Homo sapiens: one gene and its partners. The protein of the gene in region 3 binds, or shares a complex with, the protein of the main gene of each other region. Each region holds a gene or a part of one and is shown on either strand. Other genes may lie near its edges. The genes, in order: RABGGTB, PTAR1 and YKT6. A codon is read from its position in the direction of its gene.

Evidence for each region.
Region 1: the proteins of YKT6 (region 3) and RABGGTB are in contact, whole or in part, in a crystal structure (PDB 6J7F), measured with the Homo sapiens proteins. Residues at the interface, in NP_006546.1 of Homo sapiens: Lys60, Gln62, Asp63, Leu65, Asn83, Glu84, Tyr85, Pro86, Ser87, Leu153, Asn155, Thr156, Glu158, Arg189, Lys190, Cys194, Cys195; in NP_004573.2 of Homo sapiens: Thr3, Pro4, Gln5, Lys6, Asp7, Ile9, Lys11, Tyr37, Leu45, Trp52, Leu236 (codon at 1,551), Asp238 (codon at 1,545), Cys240 (codon at 1,539), Arg281 (codon at 1,416), Gly283 (codon at 1,410), Asp284 (codon at 1,407), Met285 (codon at 1,404), Asp287 (codon at 1,122), Phe289 (codon at 1,116), His290 (codon at 1,113).
Region 2: the proteins of YKT6 (region 3) and PTAR1 are in contact, whole or in part, in a crystal structure (PDB 6J7F), measured with the Homo sapiens proteins. Residues at the interface, in NP_006546.1 of Homo sapiens: Met1 (codon at 5,131), Ser29 (codon at 5,215), Phe30 (codon at 5,218), Phe31 (codon at 5,221), Asn83, Glu84, Pro86, Gln131, Asn132, Pro133, Arg134, Gln180, Phe184, Arg189, Ser193; in NP_001093136.1 of Homo sapiens: Glu31, Gly33, Leu34, Ile35, Pro36, Val48, Val50, Glu51, Lys53, Leu54, Gly55, Ser58, Lys135, Tyr191, His225, Ser228, Met229, His230, Val231, Ser232, Asp233, Phe298, Asp301, Leu302, Ser305, Tyr306, His309.

What each region holds. Positions count from the first base shown.
Region 1 is NC_000001.11:75,789,200-75,795,634, reverse strand, and holds the end of RABGGTB (geranylgeranyl transferase type-2 subunit beta), read right to left. Parts: coding exon 6,279-6,435; intron 6,159-6,278; exon of another isoform or gene 6,088-6,158; intron 5,684-6,087; coding exon 5,578-5,683; intron 5,484-5,577; exon of another isoform or gene 5,361-5,483; intron 5,190-5,360; exon of another isoform or gene 5,118-5,189; intron 4,351-5,117; coding exon 4,298-4,350; intron 4,175-4,297; coding exon 4,064-4,174; intron 3,455-4,063; coding exon 3,329-3,454; intron 1,552-3,328; coding exon 1,402-1,551; intron 1,126-1,401; coding exon 985-1,125; 3' UTR 549-984; downstream 1-548. UniProt on the Homo sapiens protein: Catalyzes the transfer of a geranylgeranyl moiety from geranylgeranyl diphosphate to both cysteines of Rab proteins with the C-terminal sequence -XXCC, -XCXC and -CCXX, such as RAB1A, RAB3A, RAB5A and RAB7A.
Region 2 is NC_000009.12:69,756,920-69,764,678, reverse strand, and holds the start of PTAR1 (protein prenyltransferase alpha subunit repeat-containing protein 1), read left to right. Parts: upstream 1-4,667; 5' UTR 4,668-4,740; coding exon 4,741-4,826; intron 4,827-7,759.
Region 3 is NC_000007.14:44,196,006-44,204,080, forward strand, and holds the start of YKT6 (synaptobrevin homolog YKT6), read left to right. Parts: upstream 1-4,972; 5' UTR 4,973-5,130; coding exon 5,131-5,234; intron 5,235-8,075. UniProt on the Homo sapiens protein: Vesicular soluble NSF attachment protein receptor (v-SNARE) mediating vesicle docking and fusion to a specific acceptor cellular compartment. Functions in endoplasmic reticulum to Golgi transport; as part of a SNARE complex composed of GOSR1, GOSR2 and STX5.

The DNA of each region.
Region 1 (6,435 bases), on a different chromosome or scaffold from region 3:
GGCCAGGCGTGGTGGCTCACGCCTGTAATCCCAGCACTTTGGGAGGCCGAGGTGGGTGGATCACAAGGTCAGGCTGGTCTCCAGCTCCTCAGCATGGTGAAACCCTGTCTGTACTAAAGTAACATAAAAATTAGCCGGGCATGGTGGTGTGCGGCTGTAGTCCCAGCTACTCGAGAGGCTGCGGCTGAATTGCTTAAACCCGGCAGACGGAGGTTGCAGTTAAGCTGAGATCGTGCTGCTGCGCTCCAGCCTGGGCAACAGAGATTCTGTCACAAAAAAATAAAAAAGAGTGATTGTACCCATTTTAGCTTTTTAAGAAAAAGACAGGTGCAAAAAAATACTGTGGTGACCATCAACTTACCCGTTAGTGTTTCCTTATTTGAAGACAACTCCTTCTTTGGGTAATTCTGATATATAAAATGCTAAAAAAAAAAAAAAAAAAAAAAAAAAAAAGGACAGTCCGAATCACAACCCCATTTTAAGATGGTAGATTGCCATTTAACCTAAGTCTGTGACCAATTCAGAATAACCATATTCAAACCTATCAATCATTTCCAAATTTCAACAGCCATTTATTTTGTGCATCATTTAATTCATGTATGGGTTCTATCCACTTTCATCAGTTAACATTCTTGTTGACAAACCAATTTACATCAACTTGCTATAGAACAGATGAAAGGTATACATGGGGGAAAAATCAAGTAGAAACCTAGAGTTATTTTATGTTAGCTCAGTTATTGAACATAACAGACACAGAAGTATACACAAAGAACTGTAGTCAGAATAACAGGACTTCAGAATAAAAAGCAGAAAATAAAATACCGGTCTTTATTTTACAATATGTATAATTATATAATTTATTAAAATTAATTTAACACAATATACAAAATATTAACAGTAGTCACTTTTAGATTCGATAAGCACTTCAAATACAGAAATGTTAAAATGGCAAAACTATACTATGCAACTTTCAATTCAATGAATCTAGCTCACTAGCTCAGGCTGAACATTCACTCTCTGAAGCACTTCTTCAGGCATGCAAAAGACAGGATTAACAGGTTTAATCTGTTCTTCTCCCAAAAGTGACAATCCAGCAATTCCAAATAAGGTATGAAAAGGATCCACCTATTTAAAAAAGAATTTATATACAGATCACAAAATGAAAACTTCTTTAACTTCAAATTATGAATACCTGACCTTTACCATATACTAATTTTGTTAGCAACAAGCGACAAGAAATTTCTGTAAGATTGTTCTATATCCTTCATACACTCTACAATAAATAGAAAAAAAAACTGCTTTCAAAGCAACACTCGGAATGCCACCCTGGAAATCCATGGAACCATGAAGTAATGCAAACGCTGAAATAATTTATAGAAATATGTCAGAAATATTACTTGCCATATCTCCTGGCCTGTCTGCAAATCCCCCCGTTTCTTCATCTTGACATGCTAAAATGAAATTACGCAGTTTCTCTCTATCAATCCAATGAAGTCTTCCAATTATCTTTAGGGAAGCCAGGACCCACCATGAGTAGCATACATCTGGTAACTAGGAGGGAAAAAAGTTGCCACAATTTCATTCTCTTTTATTTCCCTAATTTTGAGAACAATTTAAAAGTGGGTTAAGTCTCACTCTTAGGTAATCTGATGTTCAAAGTGTCAAACCATGTGGAAGGACGAAATCCAGGGATATACTGATATGCAGGGTATGAAATACTTGCTTAGAATGAAAGATAATCAATTAATGGGTAAGAAGAGACCAAACTTCAATTCATAGGTAACCATGCTAAATATCTCAGTACTCACTGATAAGCATGCATCTGCTTTGTTTCTATCTGCAATGAATGCCTAACTCAGCCCCTTAACCAAGAAGCTAGCAGTATAATCATGAAATCCATGGGTATAGTTCTGTTTTTCTACAAGCACTGTCCAGGGGGGTACACACCTGCTTAAAATCAACTAAACCCTTGCTCTTCAAAATATGGTGACAGAAGTCTATAAAGAAAACCCCACTCAAGGCTGATCTCATTTTAATGAGATCCCTGAGTAACTCATAGACTCATTAGAAGCTGCCCTAGATTGTGTGCAAGTGCAGGTCCCGGTGCTCCCCACGGCCACCCATTTTTCTGTTGACAGTTCCTCAGGCTTTTTATTTCACTCTATTGTAGACAGCTACTGCGGGTGTTTCTCTACCCGTTGTTATTCAGAAATACTAAGGTTTAAAAATAAAAATACAGGCCGAGCACAGTGGCTCACGCCTGTAATCCCAGCACTTTGGGAGGTTGAGGCGGGTAGATCACCTGAGGTCAGGAGTTCAAGATCAGCCTGATGAACATGGTGATACCCCATCTCTACTAAAAATACAAAATTGGATGGGCGTGGTGGTGTATGACTGTAATCCCAGCTACTGTACCACCACGTCCCATTCAGAGGGCAGGGGCACAGCAAGCTACAATCCTTGAGTCAAATCTATAGTGTAGGAATAGTTTTTACATTTATAAATCATTTAAATATAGTCCTGGGTCAGGCACGGTGGCTCACGCCTACAATCCCAGCACTTTGGGAGGTTGATGCAGGCAGATCACGAGGTCAGGAGTTTGAGACCAGCCTGGCCAATATGGTGAAACCCCGTCTCTAATAAAAATACAAAAATTAGCCGTGCGCCTGTAGTCCCAGCTACTTGGGAGGCTGAGGCAGAACTGCTTGAACCTGGGAGGCGGAGGTTGCAGTGAATCAAGATGGCGTCACTGCACTCCAGCCTGGGCAACAGAGCAAGATTCCATCTGACATAGGAAATACAAGTATATCCATCCATAATAATTGTAATTGGAACACAGCCATACTCATTCATTTCTTACCACTTATGGCTGCACTTGCTCTACAGGACAATTACATAGTTGCAAATGAGTATTCACTATTTGTCCCTTACAGACCTGATAAGAGAGACCTATTATGTGGAGGAAAATTTAATAATCTTCTCTCCAAACCAAATTATCTGGGTATTCCTTAAATAAGAAGATTGCAAACAAAAATTCTGTAGTCTAATTTTTAAAAAATCCAATTTGCCAAAATCAACTGTCCTTAAACATGGAGATTCCTGTACAAGACTGTCTGGAAATGGACATTAGGATCAATGAGTATTTCAACTCATGGGGGTCTACTTTGTCAAGGGGAGTCTTTTAGTAGGATATATTACTGAAAATTCACAACAGGGAAAGGTAATAAATAAGCTCATGGCCAATTTACAATATAGAAACAGGCAAGACAAAGCAGCAGCATTCACTCAAGGTTCTAAAGCTAGCAGAATATGGCTTATCAAACAATACCTTCTCCGGCCTTCCATTGAGCCCGCCTGAGGGTAATTGTCGTTCACAAAGCCACCAGCCAAGTAAATCAGAATTTACTTGATGCAACTGACTTGTAATTGCCAGAAATCCTGTGCAACAATAGATCTAAAATTACAGACATAAAGTTTATGTGTATAATAATTTCTTGACATTAAAAGTGATAAAACTCAAATTATTAAAACACCACTTTATATCTTAAGTTTTTCTTCTTGATCTGACACTTAAAATTCCAAACATGTATTAATACCACATATCTGAAAAAATCCAAGCATACTATTACTAGTATGCAATTCTGCACTGAAATATTATTGTCAAAATTTCTTCATGGCTAGTATTTCACAGCCATCCATTCACATATTCAGTGTTCTCTGGCACAAGAAAAGAGGTTCATAATTTATCTTAGGAAAGAAAGAAAAATGTGTTGTTTTTTTTTTTATCTGTATGGTTAGTGAAAAATTAATGGAAAACAAAAGTGTTTTGGTGCTTATAAACCCACTTATGTTTGCTTAGGTCAGACGAATCCACCGACAGAGAAAGGTATATAGTATATAAAGCAAAGTAATGATAGCAATTAAGCAATTCTTATGTAAGATGCCCTATTACAGTCGAATTAACTTTATGTGTATTTGACAAACACTGAAATAACCAATTTTCTTATTTTACTACACTGGCTTCCAAAATGACAATACATTTTCATCTGTATTCATAAATTACCTGCCCAGCATGGGATTCAGAACCTGGTCTGCAACCAAATCCACCGTCAAAGTTCATACAGGATAAAACAAATTCGATTGCCTTTTCCACATTAATAGCATCAAGCTTCCCCTACAAACAAAAAAAAAGATGCCTGTTAAATTCCAGAGTATTCAGCAGATCAGACTCAAAAAAAAAAAAAATTCCAGAGTATTCATGAACTTTAATCATTTCAATCAAATATTCAAAGCTTACCAACAAAGCCAAAGTTGCCACCGCACAAAAAGAGAATCTTGTGTCAATTTCTCCTACAATAAAAATAGATCAAATCAAGGCAGGTGTTACCAAATCATACATGAGTCATCTAAAAACAAACACTGCACAACTACCACTTTAAATTGAGTTCAAGCTTAACTTTCACTTTAGGGTAGTCAGGAGGAAAGCTAAATCTGAAGTGCCTTTACTTCCCAAGAAAATTCCTTTGTCAAAAATAACAGCAAATTGACCAGGCACAGTAGCTCTTGCCTATAATTCCAACATTTTGGGAGGCTGAGGTGGGAGAATCACTTGAGCCTAGGAGTTTGAGACTAGCCGAGGCAACATAATGGGACCCCATCTCTACAAAAAACTTTTTAAAAAAAATTAGGTGGGGCTGGGCATTGTGGCTCAGGCCTGAAATCCCAGCACTTTTGGTGGCCGAGGCAGGAGGATCACATGAGGCCAGGGGACCCCATCTCTACTAAAAACACAAAAACCAGCCAGGTGTTGTGGTGCACATCTCAGCTACTCTGTAAGCTGAGGCAGGAGAATTGCTTGAGCTTGGGAGGTGGAGGTTGCAGTGAGCCAAGATTGCACCACTGCACTCCAGCCTGGGCAACAGAGCTCTCCAGCCCCAGCAACTGTCTCCCAAAATACTGCACTCCAACCTGGACAGAGCCAAGACCCTGCCACAAAAAAGTAACAGCAAATTATCTTAAGCTGCTTAAAGAAAGCCCAGAAAGAGAAGAAAACCAAAGAGAAGAAAACTAATAGAACCCAAAGTATTAGTCCATTTCTAATAATGAAATAAACTTACCCTACTTTATAAAAGTAGATTTTTCACATCCCATGAAGCAGCTGGTCTCTCTGGCCTGCACTGTGTTCATCCCTAAAGCAGAGATTATCTACGTTTATCAAATAAAATTCTATTCCCTCCCTCCACTCAAATATTCAGCAAGTTTGTAAAGTTTTTTTTTTTAAATATTTTTCCCTTTCCAGCAAGTAGTTTTTAAAAAACTTTACAAAGCCACCAAATATTGGGGAAAAAAATTCCACCTACCTTATCTTTTAGACTGGCCCCCTCTGTTCCAGTGCTCCTGTATATGCTGATATAACTACCACAGTGCATGCTGGAAGTTCCAGCAGACCATTAACTCCAGTTAGACCAGCTGCTTAGTGGGACCTGAAAAGATGAAAAACTTATAAACTGGTTACTAGCAAAACCAGTACATTTTAATATTGGTATTTTGGGTAGAATGGACTAAATCTGACATTACCCCAAATATCTCCAGCAAAAGAACCATCTTCTTTCTGTAGACCTTTAACATATTCCACAACTTTATTTACGTCAATAACATTAATACTGTCATACAGCGTAAGAATCTGCAATAAAGACAAGTATTAGGTAAATGTCCCTTTCAGGTTTATTCTAATGATCTTATGCTCAACTCTTTTTAAGTTGTCAAGCACATCCTTTTGTCTCTGTGTATATAACCTTTTCTCAAATATGCAGACTCTCCTGTTATTGAATAAAATTAGATAGTATCAAGAAAACTCAAATCTTTAAAGTATAATTTTCTACATATAAATTTTAACTTGGCATTCCAAGATACTCAAGTATACTAACTCACATCCACACAAAGTCCTGATCTTCCCATCTCAGCACCCAGTAGTACCAGAAAGACTTTAAACCACCAGGTAGATGTTCACTAATATCAAAATCAAATAGCTCCATTTAGCTATTTTACAGTATTTACACATACTGAAGATAAAAATTTTACCCTCCAAGGTCTCAGTGTAATTTTAGAACTCACATCAACTTTAGATTCAGCTAATACATGCCATTACATCATTGACCTTGTAGGACAGCTTCACTTGTAACAAAACTTTTTGACCAAATCCTGATACAGTTTCAATTTCCAACTCTGAAGTAAGAGAACATACTATCAAGATCGTTGCAATTTTGATTAGTATTTACCTGGACAGCACTAAGAGTGTATAAAAGATGAGGATCATGTCCGATACTAGCACTTATTCCACCACATTCATGTTGGCAAGACTTAATAAATGCCAGAATCTCTTCTCTATTCATGCGATGAAGTTGTCCCATGAGATCCATTACTGTCAGACCCCAA
Region 2 (7,759 bases), on a different chromosome or scaffold from region 3:
GAAACGTGTGGTTTTTGGGAGTGGGTAGGAAGATTGTCAAAATATATTCACAACCATGTAAATGATAATAATAGACATGGTCACTTAAAAAAATCAATATATCTGTAAGAAAATTAGTATGCACATAATATATTTGGCTAATTAACAAACAAATATATCAGCTCCTTATTAATATATAATTTAAAAAACTTTTCTTAGGCCAGGTGCAGTGGCTCAAGCCTGTAATCCCAGCACTTTGGGAGGCCGAGGTGGGTGGTCAGGAGTTGAGGTCAGGAATTCGAGACCAGCCTGGCCAACATGGTGAAACCCAGTCTCTACTAAAAATAGAAAAATTAGCCAGGTGTGGTGGCGTGTGTCTGTAATACCAGCTACTCAGGAGGCTGACACAGGAGAATCGCTTGAACCTGTACCACTGCACTGCAGCCTGCACGACAGAGTGAGAATCCGTCTCAAAAAAAAAAAAATTCTTAAATTACAAATGTTACTTTGCTCTTTACATTACATAGTCAAATTGTCCTATGAAAATACCTCTAACACTTTGGTATATATTCCTCTAGTTATAATGTGATTTTCATGTGGGGAAAAGCAAGAGAGATCAGATTGTTACTGTGTCTGTGTAGAAAGAAGTAGACATAGGAGACTCCATTTTGTTATGTACTAGGAGAAATTCTTCTGCCTTGAGATCCTGTTAATCTATAACCTTACCCCCAACCCCGTGCTCTCTGAAACATGTGCTGTGTCAACTCAGAGTTGAATGGATTAAGGGCGGTGCAAGATGTGCTTTGTTAAACAGATGCTTGAAGGCAGCATGCTCGTTAAGAGTCATCACCACTCCCTAATCTCAAGTACCCAGGGACACAAAAACTGCGGAAGTCCGCAGGGACCTCTGCCTAGGAAAGCCAGGTATTGTCCAAGGTTTCTCCCCATGTGATAGTCTGAAATATGGCCTCGTGGGAAGGGAAAGACCTGACCGTCCCCCAGCCCGACACCCGTAAAGGGTCTGTGCTGAGGAGGATTAGTAAAAGAGGAAGGAATGCCTCTTGCAGTTGAGACAAGAGGAAGGCATCTGTCTCCTGCCTGTCCCTGGGCAATGGAATGTCTCGGTATAAAACCCGATTGTATGCTGCATCTACTGAGATAGGGAAAAACTGCCTTAGGGCTGGAGGTGGGACCTGCGGGCAGCAATACTGCTTTGTAAAGCATTGAGATGTTTATGTGTATGCATATCTAAAAGCACAGCACTTAATCCTTTACATTGTCTATGATGCAAAGACCTTTGTTCACGTGTTTGTCTGCTGACCCTCTCCCCACAATTGTCTTGTGACCCTGACACATCCCCCTCTTTGAGAAACACCCACAGATGATCAATAAATACTAAGGGAACTCAGAGGCTGGCGGGATCCTCCATATGCTGAACGCTGGTTCCCCGGGTCCCCTTATTTCTTTCTCTATACTTTGTCTCTGTGTCTTTTTCTTTTCCAAATCTCTCGTCCCACCTTACGAGAAACACCCACAAGTGTGTAGGGGCAACCCACCCCTACATTTTCAAATACTAAATAGCATCTTACCATATAAATTTATAATTTAATCAATCCCCTCTCATTGGGCATTTAAGTTATTTACTGTATTTTATTATCAATAAATGAACATAAATCTTGTAGTCCTTCGACAAAATCACGCTGAATTTATTATGCCCTATTCTTGTATACATATATATCATTATTGAGGATTTATGAATTTCAAATCTTAAATCCTTTGGACTTCTGTTTTCTTATCTGTAAAATTAGAGAGTTGGCTCAGAGTTCTAATTATGCTCCAATTCTAAAAAAAAAAACAAGTTCTAAACATAGTAGATTCTTAATAATTGGGGTAAAACAATTTGTGAATTCTTAGAGGAAACAAGATACAATGCATGCCTTTCAAATGACTATAAAGAGGTTGCATGTGGAGAGGGCATACACAGAATCATACAGAGGAATTCTGTTTCTGAAATAGCTGTTTTACATCAAAATTTGGGGACAAAGTTTTCTTTTTTCCCTGTTAAATAAAGCCTTTCGGGGAAAATCATTATTTCTGAGTGTGCTGCTTTGATCTCTGCCTCCAGAAATTGGGATTTATTTCCCACTGCCATTAGGATGCAAGGTCCTGATTAAGAAAACTTACTAAGTTTAAGAATTTTAATTTAAGAACTGGTCTTACATTCTTAATCAGGATATTTAAAGTTGTCTTTTGCCTTGAAATCTAAACACACATTCCACTCTTTTCACTGCTTCACTCCAGAACTTGTTATCGGTTAAATTTTGATTGATTTTACTAACTCTTTTTTTTTCTTTCTTTTTTTTTTTTTTTTTTTTTTGAGATGGCATTTCGCTTTTGTTGCCCAGGCTGGAGTGCAGGGCACAGTCTTGGCTTACTGCAACGTGCGTCTCCCGGGTTCAAGCGATTCTCCTGCCTCAGCCTCCCAAGTAGCTGGAGCTACAGGCATGCACCACGACGCCCAGCTAATTTTGTATTTTAAGTAGAGACGGGGTTTCACCCTGTTGGCCAGGCTGGTCTCAAACTCCTGATCTCAGGTATCCACCCGCCTCGGCCTCCCAAAGTGCTGGGATTACAGGCGTGAGACACCGTGCCCGGCCGACTTTACTAATTCTTAATCCTGTCCCACCTTGCTGGCTACAATTTTGTGAAACTTCTATCTCACTTCTTTTTTTTTTTTTTTAGATGGAGTCTTGCTCTGTCGCCAGGCTGGAGGGCAGTGGCGCGATCTCCACTCACTGCAACCTCCTACTTCCGCGTTCAAGCGCTTCTCCTGCCTCAGCCTCCCAAGTAGCTGGGATTACAAGCACGTGCCACCACGCCCAGCTAATTTTATATTTTTAGTAGAGACGGCGTTTCACTGTCTTGGCCACGATGGTCTCGAACTCCTGACCTCGTGATCCTTCCGCCTCTGCCTCCCAAAGTGCTGGGATTACAGGTGTAAGCCACCGTGCCCGGTCCTATCTCACTTCTTTTACAACCAGAAGGCTAACTCCAGCCTTTATAAACATACCCACAGGAAATACTGGCCACTGAGTATAGTAAATTTATATTTTTCGTTTATATTTCTCATTCACTTTACATGCAATAGATAGCTTTTACTTTTACAATCATAAAAACTACTTCAAACGCTCCGCATATGTTCACATTAAACACACCATGAGTTTATTTTTTTAATAGCTTTTTAAAGATACAGATTTCTTTTTTTTTTTTTTTGAGACAGAGTCTCGCTCTGTCGCCCAGGCCGGACTGCGGACTGCAGTGGCGCAATCTCGGCTCACTGCAAGCTCCGCTTCCCGGGTTCACGCCATTCTCCTGCCTCAGCCTCCCGAGTAGCTGGGACTACAGGCGCCCGCCACCGCGCCCAGCTAATTTTTTGTATTTTTAGTAGAGACGGGGTTTCACCTTGTTAGCCAGGATGGTCTCGATCTCCTGACCTCATGATCCACCCGCCTCGGCCTCCCAAGGTGCTGGGATTACAGGCGTGAGCCACCGCGCCCGGCCTTTTTTTAAAGACGGAGTCTCGCTCTGTCGCCCAGGCTGGAGTGCAGTGGGGAGTAGCTGGGATTACAGGCGCCCGCCACCACGCCCGGCTTTTTTTTTTTTTTTTTTTTTTTTGTATTTTTAGTAGAGACGGGGTTTCACCGTGTTAGCCAGGATGGTCTCGATCTCCTGACCTTGTGATCCGCCCGCCTTGGCCCCCCAAAGTGCTGGGATTACAGGCGTGAGCCACCGCACCTGGCCAGATTTCAAGGGTGGAAGAATAAAACTGAACCAAGGGCAGCCAGATTTTTCTACCAGAGGTGCAAAAGAAAACCTGATACACAAAAATTTTAGTTATGGCATTTCAAAATCCTAAATAAACTAGAAAGCTCGTTTTTCCTACAAAAATTTATTTTTGCTATTATGAACAAACCCTGTCAGAGCCTTGATCCTTTTTTTTAAATTCCAAAATTGACGCAAAGGCTACCAAATGCAGTACAAAATGAAGTCGAAAAATCTAAAAACGATTTCACTTCTACTTCCTACATACAGATGGCAAATAACTTTTCCTTCACTTTCCTTTCTCTTCCTTTAATAAATTTAAGAATTTTAATTAATGTTTTTTAAAAAGGCTGCTTTCAAGTTCAGAGACAAAAATTGGCACAGTTAGAAAGGAGGTCACCAACACGGTCAAATAGGGACTCGCTCCGCCGCAATGCCTCTGGACCTCTTCATCTCTCAGGCTGGGAAAATAAAGCAGACAAGCTCTGAAAAACGCCCGGGACTAACTGTTAAGAGGCCCTGCATCCTCAGTTGAACATTCCTTCAGGAATGCCCGGGGACCTTGCTGGGGGGGTTCAGGAAGGTGTCTGACTCTCTGGGAGTGTGTCTTGAGGTTTCGCCTAAAACTTAAAATAAGAAAATCGGAGGCCTGAGAGAACTTTGCAAACAAATGTCCAGCATCTTCTCTGACGCTTAGAAAGTCCGTTACCCGCGCGGAGGCGAACTTCTCCACTCACTGGAAGGCCACCAACCCTAGCTAACGCCACGCCCAGGCCGCCAACTGGCTGACCCGGAAGTGCTCGGCGGCGGCCGCGGCGGCGGGGACGCGGCCTAGCCGAAGCACCCGCGCGCGCGCGCGCGCGCTCGTTCTCCGCGGAACTCCCGCCGGCGGCCCGGCTCACGCGGAGGCGCGCCCGAACTGTCGCGGCCGCCGCCAACATGGCCGAGACCAGCGAGGAGGTGGCGGTGCTGGTGCAGCGGGTTGTGAAGGACATCACTAACGCCTTCAGGAGGAACCCACACATGTGAGTCGCGCGCCTCCGCCGCCTCCGAGGGTCGTCGGGAGCGGGCGGGGGCGGGGCCAAGCGTCCACCCGACCTCGGGCGGCGGGCGGACAGCGGGTCCTGGCCCACGAGCCCTTCTAGGGAGGAGGCAGAGCCGTGTCGGGCGGGACCGTTGTCGGCCGCCGCTGGCCCGGCTTTCCGCTACCGGGACGCGCTCGCGGTCGAGTCCCTAGAAGTGACCTCAAAAAATCAAAACGGAACTACTTTCTCTGTCCCTCCCCACCTTTTCATAGGAGTTCACGAAACTCCAGAGACGTCCCCCGTAGGTCGACATCCTTCCTGTGTTTAAGGTACTCGGGCGCACACAACGATGTGGGTCCGTGTATGCCTTGTAAACACAACTCTTGAGATTCATCCCGGACGTTGGCAAGAGGGGGTAACCGATCCTCTTACTTTTAATGAGCCTCAAACCCCTCAGTTTACTAACTAAAGGTGGTTTGAGGCTGCTTTTGACTTTAGCCTTACTTGCCACAAAATTGTAAAGTGACTCCGATAATACATTGTGTTTTGAAAGGTGAACAGAACATTCTCAAGAGAAGCTTCTGTGGGCGCAGTGTGGAGTCTGGGATAAAGCAAATGAAACCTTGATACTTTTTAGCATAAGCGGATTCATAGTTACAAGGAGCATGTTAACTCATTTTTATCCCAACACTGCTGCCCTCTTTAACGGGACACTGCAGAACTGACATATGTATCTCTTCCATTTTACTTGAAGTACTGTGGGAAGATACCGCAAGAGTCTACTTTTTGTAACACTTTGCTTTTATGTAACAAGTGAAAAGAAAGCTATTGAGAGAGAGAGAGAGATCTACATTATACAAAGGTGTAGGGAAGAAGCAACAATGTACCTCCTTTCCCATACCTCTTCCTCCTCAAAGAAAAGAAACATGGCATCCAGTTCTGCATTACTTTCATTTTAGCTAGTTGTTTTTGGAGTTTATTTTTTTTTTTTTTAGTTTATTATTTTTTATTATTATTTAATTTATTTTTATTTTATTCTTTAGACTGGAGCTCATGATTTTTTTTTTTAAGTATTCTAACCGGTTCAGCTTTTCTGCCTAAAAAAGTTGCCAAACGTGTATCTTACCAAAGTGTTCTTTTCCTCCAAGGTGATGATTGTAAAACAGTTAAGAAGCCGTTGGATGTTTTGCTCCCTTGTGGCACACAATTGGAGACGTGCAACTGTGCCACATTAAAAACAAAACACTGCTGGCCTCAAAACACACCTGCCACCTCTGACAGCATCCACTTCCCTCCCCCTTATGACTGCTGCCTTTTTCAAAATGAGAGTGTTTGGAATGATTTCCTGGCAGTATCCATAGTGGTTGCTGAGCCTTCTAAAGAATGCTTTGATGCCTTGCTGTATATCAGTCTTTCGATTTCTTTTTGAGAATGGGAGCCTTAGTGCAAGTAAGAGACGACCTCAAAAAAAAAAAAAGTTGGACAAATGAAGAGTGTATTTTCTCATCACTGGTATTTTTCTAGAAGAAATTACAGCAGAGATTAGAAATCTAATACAAAATGTCGTAATCATCTTATGTTCTCTTCTTTGAGGTAGACTAAAAGAGCATCATTATATTTGAAGAAACCAAGATTGAATGTTCATTGGCTTGGCAGTTTTTAACACAGTGCAGTTTGGAACATGTCCCAGTTCTTGTGGATCACATTTATGGAAACTCTTAAAGGACTTTAATGCCCCTCCCTAATCCTTTTTCTACTGTAAAACCTCATTAATATATCCTCAATGTATAATTTATTAGTAATAAGGATTTGGGTCATTCGAGATTTAAAACTTTGAGATAAGTTGGATATTCGGAATAATGTAATGATTTGTAATATAGGTCTTAAACATTTAAATAGCTTAACTCATTGTTTAAGACTAGTCATCAGCTATATTTGAATACATATTCCCCACAGTAAAACTATTTTCAATAATATTACTATGCATCTTTGTAAGTGCCTTATAATTTGGGCTTTTAAAAATTGCCTGCGCTTTCTTCCCTTAATTTAGCCCATTTACTCCCAAAATAAAGAGGCTGTGTTTCTTTTTTTTTTTTTAAGGCATTGTTTATCTGTAACGTTTGTATCTAACTTTACTGTATCTAATTACACTTTCAGTATTATACAAAAATTTTTTTGTTTTTCTTGTCCAAACTTAAGATCGGTTGTAATTTTATTGGCCAACATCTACTTCATTAAATACATTGACTTTGTTTATGTAGAAATATTTAGCCAGAAGGAGTTGAGGATGCAGTGGTGAGATGTGGATTTTGTTACTGTATGATGTGAATAGGTACCTTCTCTCAGCCTCAGTTTCCTCTTGATCTTGTGAGGCTGATGAAAACAGGAAAATCACCTCACACAGTGGTACTTAGTTGCCACTCAATAAATATTAGACCTTCCCTGAATCTCTGTGTTCCTCACCAAAAATATATTGGACAAATGATTGGTGAATATGAAGCACTTTATAAACCTGGATAATACTATATAAATGCTGTTTGTATGGTTGAGTATTAGATAATCATATTGGATTCTCTAAAACTGAAAACTTGACCTAGGGATAGTCTTTAACTTAGTGTATGGACCCTGTGCTAATGTAGAAGACAACAGTTTATAATGTAAACAGTCACGTTAAAATTAATCTTATCCAGCAAGTTATTGTTTTTTCTATTAAATATTGAACTCACTGTTTATGAAGTGTTGTGGGTACCATCTTTACTGTGTGAAATAGAAGTTTAAAATACAGTTCTTGAACCCAAGGCACTAACAGAAATTTCTGTAATGGTGGAAATTTTCTGTGTCTGTGCTGTTCCATATGGTAGCCACTAGCCATAGTAGCTATTGAGCAATTGAAGTGTCCCTAATATGAACAGGGACCACATTTTAAATTTTAT
Region 3 (8,075 bases):
GGTAATGGTTTGCTCACTTTTGTGATTTTGTGATGTGTCAGTGCTGGGACTGAATCCAAGTTGGGTGACAGCTGGGGCGATGCAGCAGAAGGCAGGTCTTGCTTTTTGGTAACACAGTGAGCTTGGGAAGTCTGCAACCACATGACTATGAATGAGGCTTCCTGGAACAGTAGAGGCTGAGTGAGGCCAGAGAGGAGCAGGAAGAGTTGCCAGGAGTGGGCTGCATGACAGTTTGTTAAGCATTTCACTGTTGACATCTGAACCCCAACTCTGTCCCTTACCAACCATCTCCTTAAATTGAATCTCAGTCTCTATGTCTGTAGGGTGGCAATAATATTTTCCCCTGTTTTTGTGAGGATTAAATGATGTGGCACATGGAAAGTACTTGGCATAAGGTAAACTTTGGGACAGCCACTATAATGTGTCAAGTGGATACACTGAAATTTATTCCATCCAAGCGCTGTCTTCCTGATCTTTTTGCACAACTTTCAGTGGAAGGAAGAGGGGCTCCAGAGACTTTCCTCAGAAATGGCTCTCACCTGCCTCCTATAGGGAAATGGTGTCAGTGCAAGCAGTTGAGCCTGGACTGATAGCACCCAGCAACCCAGCTTGTCAGACTACTGTGTCCATATCTGTGGGTGGCTGAGCCTAGCCACGGCCAATGGCTGTTCCTAATGTTTACTACCAAAACAGGGGAAATGTGGAAAAGCCCTTTCCACCCTCTGTACTTGGAAACACCCAGGGAAGAGGGTTGGTGACAGAGGTACTGAGTGAGTGGGCAGGTGGTGGGAACTTCCTTTCACCACAGATTATTTAAAGCAATGTTTCTCAGCTGGGCGCAGTGGCTTAAGCTTGTAATCCCAGCAATTTGGGAGGTCGAGGTGGGTGGATCACATGAGGCCAGGAGTTTCAGACCAGCCTGGCCAACATGGTGAAATCCCATCTCTATTAAAAATACAAAAATTAGCCGCGTGTATGGATGCATTCCTGTAATCCCAGCTACTCGGGAGGCTGAGGCATGAGAATCGCTTGAACCTGGGAGGCAGAGGTTGCAGTGAGTGGGATCACACCATTGCACTTCTGCCTGGGCAACAGAGTAAGACCCTGTCACAAAGCAAAACAAACAAACAAACATATATATCTGCAAAGCAATGTTTCTCAAAACTACTGCTCCCAAAGGACATTTTGACGTTTTTGATTGTGCAGTGGGGAGGGGGTGGGTTGGTACTGACATTTCTACAAAGGCCTGAGATGCTGCCTACACAATGTACAGGGCAGTCTCCCAACAAGAAAGAACTATCTAACCCAAAATGTCAATAGTGCCAAGGTTGAGAAACCTTGATTTAGAGTAATGTTTAAAGTGATGCTGTTGTTTTTCCAATATATCATCTCTTTCCCATAATCTCAGATACGGCTGCTTCTAGCATCACAACTTTGTGACCTTACTGACAACTTCCAAAGACCAAGTTTCTTTCAGTTGTATGTGTCTTGCAAGTTCCTTTCTGATTACATGTGAAACTGTGCCCGACAGGGTTAAAGAAACTGGTAACTAACAGAAATCTTGAGCTTGTCTTGCAGGGCAGCCGATAAGGAAACAGTTTGCTATAATCCCCTCTGCTTATACAACTTGCTGGAACAGGTTGGAACCAATATGGCTGACTGGAGCCTGTGCAAAATAGACTTACTAGCCCGAGGAGCGGCCCTTTGATGTCACAGCCCAAATTCCCACAGCTTGTTTTATACCACCTCCTGAATCTGCATGTGACCCTTGAAGCAGCATGAAGAAGCAACAGCTCATGACCAAGAGATTTTCTAAACACTTCTTCGTTTCAGCCAATCACCGTCCAGCCCGAAACTCCACTTCCAAAATCTCTCCCTTAAATCTACTGCTGCGAAGCAAGTATTGGGAGACAGATTTGAGCCCGTCTTCTGTCCCCTTGCAAGGCTGCTTGGCAATACATCTTTCTTGCTACAAAAATCCAATGCTTGGGTGTTTGGTTTTATGTTGTGCGCAGGCAAATGCAGCCGGTTTAGTTTGGTAACACGTGATGTCACTTAATACACAAGAAACGGGCAAGATATGGCATCCTCAGGGAGCTGTGCCTCACTCATTCCTATCCATAGACTTGCCTTCTTTCAACAACGCAAGCAAAAAGAAGGGTTCATTTGGGTTGGTTCCAAGTCTTTGCTATTGTGAACAGTGCCACAATAAACATACGTGTGCATGTGTCCTTATAGCAGCATGATTTATAATCCTTTGGGTATATACCTAGTAATGGGATGGCTGGGTCAAATGGTATTTCCAGTTCTAGATCCCTGAGGAATCGCCACACTGACTTCCACAATGGTTGAACTAGTTTACAGTCCCACGAACAGTGTAAAAGTGTTCCTATTTCTCCACATCCTCTCCAGCACCTGTTGTTTCCTGACTTTTTAATGATCACCATTCTAACTGGTGTGAGATGGTATCTCATTGTGGTTTTGATTTGCATTTCTCTGATGGCCAGTGATGATGAGCATTTTTTCATGTGTTTTTTGGCTACATAAATGTCTTCTTTTGAGAAGTGTCTGTTCATATCCTTCGCCCATTTGTTGATGGGGTTGTTTGTTTTTTTCTTGTAAATTTGTTTGAGTTCATTGTAGATTCTGGATATTAGCCCTTTGTCAGATGAGTAGGTTGCAAAAATTTTCTCCCATTCTGTAGGTTGCCTGTTCACTCTGATGGTAGTTTCTTTTGCTGTGCAGAAGCTCTTTAGTTTAATTAGATCCCATTTGTCAATTTTGGCTTTTGTTGCCATTGCTTTTGGTGTTTTAGACATGAAGTCCTTGCCCATGCCTATGTCCTGAATGGTATTGCCTAGGTTTTCTTCTAGGGTTTTTATGGTTTTAGGTCTAACATGTAAGTCTTTAATCCATCTTGAATTAATTTTTGTATAAGGTGTAAGGAAGGGATCCAGTTTCAGCTTTCTACATATGGCTAGCCAGTTTTCCCAGCACCATTTATTAAATAGGGAATCCTTTCCCCATTGCTTGTTTTTGTCAGGTTTGTCAAAGATCAGATGCTTGTAGATATGCGGCATTATTTCTGAGGGCTCTGTTCTGTTCCATTGCTCTATATCTCTGTTTTGGTACCAGTAGCATGCTGTTTTGGTTACTGTAGCCTTGTAGTATAGTTAGAAGTCAGGTAGTGTGATGCCTCCAGCTTTGTTCTTTTGGCTTAGGATTGACTTGGCAATGCGGGCTCTTTTTTGGTTCCATATGAACTTTAGTTTTTTCCAATTCTGTGAAGAAAGTCATTGGTAGCTTGATAGGGATGGCATTGAATCTATAAATTACCTTGGGCAGTATGGCCATTTTCACGATACTGATTCTTCCTACCCATGAGCATGGAATGTTCTTCCATTTGTTTGTATCCTCTTTTATTTCATTGAGCAGTCGTTTGTAGTTCTCCTTGAAGAGGTCCTTCACATCCCTTGTAAGTTGGATTCCTAGGTATTTTATTCTCTTTGAAGCAATTGTGAATGGGAGTTCACTCATGATTTGGCTCTCTGTCTGTTATTGGTGTATAAGACTGCTTGTGATTTTTGCACATTGATTTTGTATCCTGAGACTTTGCTGAAGTTGCTTATCAGCTTAAGGAGATTTTGGGCTGAGACGATGGGGTTTTCTAGATATACAATCATGTCATCTGCAAACAGGGACAATTTGACTTCCTCTTTTCTTAATTGAATACCCTTTATTTCCTTCTCCTACCTGATTGCCCTGGCCAGAACTTCCAACACTATGTTGAAAAGGAGTGGTGAGAGAGGGCATCCCAGTCTTGTGCCAGTTTTCAAAGGGAATGCTTCCAGTTTTTGTCCATTCAGTATGATATTGGCTGTGGGTTTGTCATAGATAGCTCTTATTATTTTGAGATACGTCCCATCAATACCTAATTTATTGAGAGTTTTTAGCATGAGGGTTGTTGAATTTTGTCAAAGGCCTTTTCTGCATCTATTGAGATAATCATGTGGTTTTTGTCTTTGGTTCTGTTTATATGCTGGATTACGTTTACTGATTTTCGTATGTTGAACCAGCCTTGCATCCCAGGGATGAAGCCCACTTGATCATGGTGGATAAGCTTTTTGATGTGTTGCTGGATTCGGTTTGCCAGTATTTTACTGAGGATTTTTGCTTCAATGTTCATCAAGGATATTGGTCTAAAATTCTTTTTTTGTTGTGTCTCTCTCTGCCACCCTTTGGTATCAGGATGATGCTGGCCTCATAAAATGAGTTAGGGAGGATTCTCTCTTTTTCTTTTGATTGGAATAGTTTCAGAAGGAATGGTACAAGCTCCTCCTAAAATGTGGCACATATACACCATGGAATACTATGCAGCCATAAAAAATGATGAGTTCATGTCCTTTGTAGGGACATGGATGAAGCTGGAAACCATCATTCTCAGCAAACTATTGCAAGGACAAAAAACCAAACACCGCATGTTCTCACTCATAGGTGGGAATTGAACAATAAGAACACATGGACACAGGAAGGCGAACATCACACACCGGGGACTGTTGTGGGGTGGGGGGAGGGGGGAGGGATAGCATTAGGAGATATACTTAATGCTAAATGACGAGTTAATGGGTGCAGCACACCAACATGGCACATGTATACATATGTAACAAACCTGCACGTTGTGCACATGTACCCTAAAACTTAAAGTATAATAATAAAAAAAATGCTTACTTTAAAAAAAGAAAGAAAAGAAAAAAAAAAAAAAGAAGGGTTCAGGCCGCTGTGGGAGGCCCAGCACCACCCAGCACAAGACAGTACGGTATCCCGCCGCGCGCCCGACTCCACCTGGCGAGCAGGGAGGGGCCAAGCTTACGCGAGGCGTGGCATCCCGCCCCTCGCTGCATTGTACTTCCGGGCTCACATTTCTGCATCCGGAGTATGAGAACCCTCAACCAGGCTGACCGGATCCGGAAGTGGATTGCGAGCCAGGAGGAGGAAGCCGGCGGTGGCCCCGTCAGCAGCCGGCTGCTGAGAGGCCGGTAGGCGGCGGCGGTCCCGAGGGGCGGCGGCCGCGCTGCTCCCTGAGAACGGGTCCCGCAGCTGGGCAGGCGGGCGGCCTGAGGGCGCGGAGCCATGAAGCTGTACAGCCTCAGCGTCCTCTACAAAGGCGAGGCCAAGGTGGTGCTGCTCAAAGCCGCATACGATGTGTCTTCCTTCAGCTTTTTCCAGAGATCCAGGTGAGCGGCACAGGCTGGTGGGCCGTGGCGGTCGGGCGGAGAGGACTGGGGTGGGGGTCCGAGTCGGAGTGGGCCTGGGGTCGGCGGAGGGATGAGGGGAGGGTGGAGGAGGCCAAGGGTAGGGGCAGGGCGGGGTGGCCGAGTGCCCGGGGTCTGAGAAGGCTGGTGTCCGAGTCAGAGGCGGGGCGGGGTGGGGAGGGCCCGGGGTCTGCTGTCCGGGCTTGGTCTCCTATAATGGAATCTGGCCGTGGACTCTACCTTTGAGGAACCAACATTAGCTCTTTAAGAGCTTATACCATTCTAGAATATAGTTCTCTACTCAGTGTTTTTCAAATTTCTGTCGTGTAAAAATTTTAAGGAGACTGTGAAGTAGTGCAGATTTCCAAGCTTCATGCCAAGATGTTCTGAATTAGTAGATTGAGGCCTCGGTATTTATATTTTAGACCAACACTTCCCACCCAGTGATTCTGACTCTGGGAGCTTGGGTGCCGCATCTTGAGAGCCATATTTTGATTTTCTTGCGGGGCTTCCCAACAATTCTGTATGAGAGATAGTGATATACTTTTTTTTGTTTGTTTTTAATGGGTGAAGTCACTGAGGTACCAAGAGGTTATATCACAACCAGCTAGAACTGAAAGCCAGGTTTAACGCTTTTTAGTTGGACACTAGTGGTACAAAAGGATTCCACACGGAAGATGCAAATGAAGCATGGGATCTGTAGGGCTTACAGGCTTTTACTTGTTTCTGGGGCGCTTTAATTGCTGGAACGTGTTAGAAGTAACACAGACACTTCCAGACCATTCGTGGGAGGGATTGGGGTGACTCAGGCACGAAAGAAGGAGGACCCTACATGGTCGGTATCTATGGTCATCTTGTCTCAAAATCTGATGGAATCTGCCGTTTGGATTCTGTTTTCCCTGCTTCAGTGCAGCTGGTTCTTGATGAGAGTTCTTTGCCAAGGACTTGCTGGATGTAAAAAAAAAAAAATGTTATTTTGTTGAAACTTTCTGCTTCTTTGAGTTCTTTTAAAAAAATATTTTTAATTGTGGTAAAATGGTACACAAAATTTATCTTCACTATCTTTAAGCGTGTAGTGAGTGCATTGATATGAAATAGATTGATAGTGTTGTGCAGCCATCACTGTCAATCGTCTCCAGAACTCCTTTTTATCAAATTCGTGTCTATTAAACACATTCCCTTCTCCCCCAGCCCATGGCAACTGCCATTCTAATTTGTCTCTGTGATTTTGACTTTTCTGGCGACCTTAGATAAATGGAATCATATAGTTTTTGTGTGTCTGGCTTATTTCATGTAGCATAATGTCCTCAAGGCTCATGCATCTTGTTGCATATATCAGAATTTCTTTCCTTTTTAAGGCTGAATAATCCATTGTATTATTCACCACATTTTGCTTATCTGTTCATCTGTCAGTGGACACCTGGGTTGCTTCCACATTTCAGCCATTGTGAATGATACTGCTATGAACATGGATGTACAAATATCTCTTCAAGACCCTGCTCGCATTTTTTTGGTATTTACCCAGAAGCGGAATTGCTGCATTATCTTTTAGCTCCTTCTTGGGGTTCTTGGTCTTTGCAGTCTTTACCATGGCCTACATTCACTGCTCTGTGTTGTTGCTTTTCTCAGATGGAACTTTTGGTGCCAACTTGGCTCTGATTCTTTTTCCTTTTTCCTTCCCATTAGTACTTAAGATTCTCAGAGATTTCACTTGTAGGACTTATACCTCACCTGCTTGGGATGCCCACACTAGTTTCCAATGACTAACAGCTGCAACACTAAAGGGACATCTCTACTAATATGTCTTAAAACAACACATGTCCCAGCTGATTTATTTATTTATTTATTTTATTTTAGATGGAGTCTTGCTCTGTCACCCAGGCTGGAGTGCAGTGGCACAGTGTCAGCTCACTGCAACCTCCGCCTCCTGGGTTCAAGTGATTCTCCTGCCTCAGCCTCCCAAGTAGCTGGGATTACAGGCGCGCACCACCACACCCGGCTAATTTTTGTATTTTTAGTAGAGATGGGGTTTTACCATGTTAGCCAGGCTGGTCTCGAACTCCTGAGCTCAAGTGATCCGCCTGCCTTGGCCTCCCAAAGTGCTAGGATTACAGGCTTGAGCCACCACGTCCGGCCTGAGCTTGTTTTCTTATAAGACCGCTTTACTTACGTCCTTTGTGCCCTATAATTACCCGATTCCAAAGTTGAAAAAGTAGTTTCCCAGCTTTTTTGGTCTTTGTATACATGCTGTCACAATGCAGTTCTTCCTTTGTCTCTTTATAGCCGTGTCTCAAATGCTGTCTCTAGGTTTACTGCAAAGCCTTCCTTGTTTGAGGTCTTCTTTTCTGAGGGGTTATTTTGATCACTTCAGTCCCTCAAGATATTAACAAGTAATACTGTGTGTGCAGGCATTGTTCCAAGTGCTTTACACGTATTACCTCGTTTAACTGTTGCACAAATCTTGATTTTTTTAATGTGGAGGCACAGCACACAGGCCCAGAGTCAGGCCTTCAGTTACCTATATGGCTCTGCTGGAGCCTGCTGCAGACTCCCATTTGAGCACCCTGCTTTGATGGCCCTGGTTGCCCTTTATATCACATCCTCAGTTGGAGGCTCCTTGTCAGCACCTCTTCCTCTGGCTGTACCATCTCCTGTGACTGTTCTGTTCTGGATAGATCTCTCTGTTGAGCCCATGATGGACCTTCTCCCTTTCACCCTTTGTATGAGCCATTTCCCACTTCTTTGTCTTGGATGAGCAGTTTTCCTTTTGTTCCATCCAGAGTGTCTTGCGCTCGTTCTGTGGACGAGCCCCAGCAGACCTGA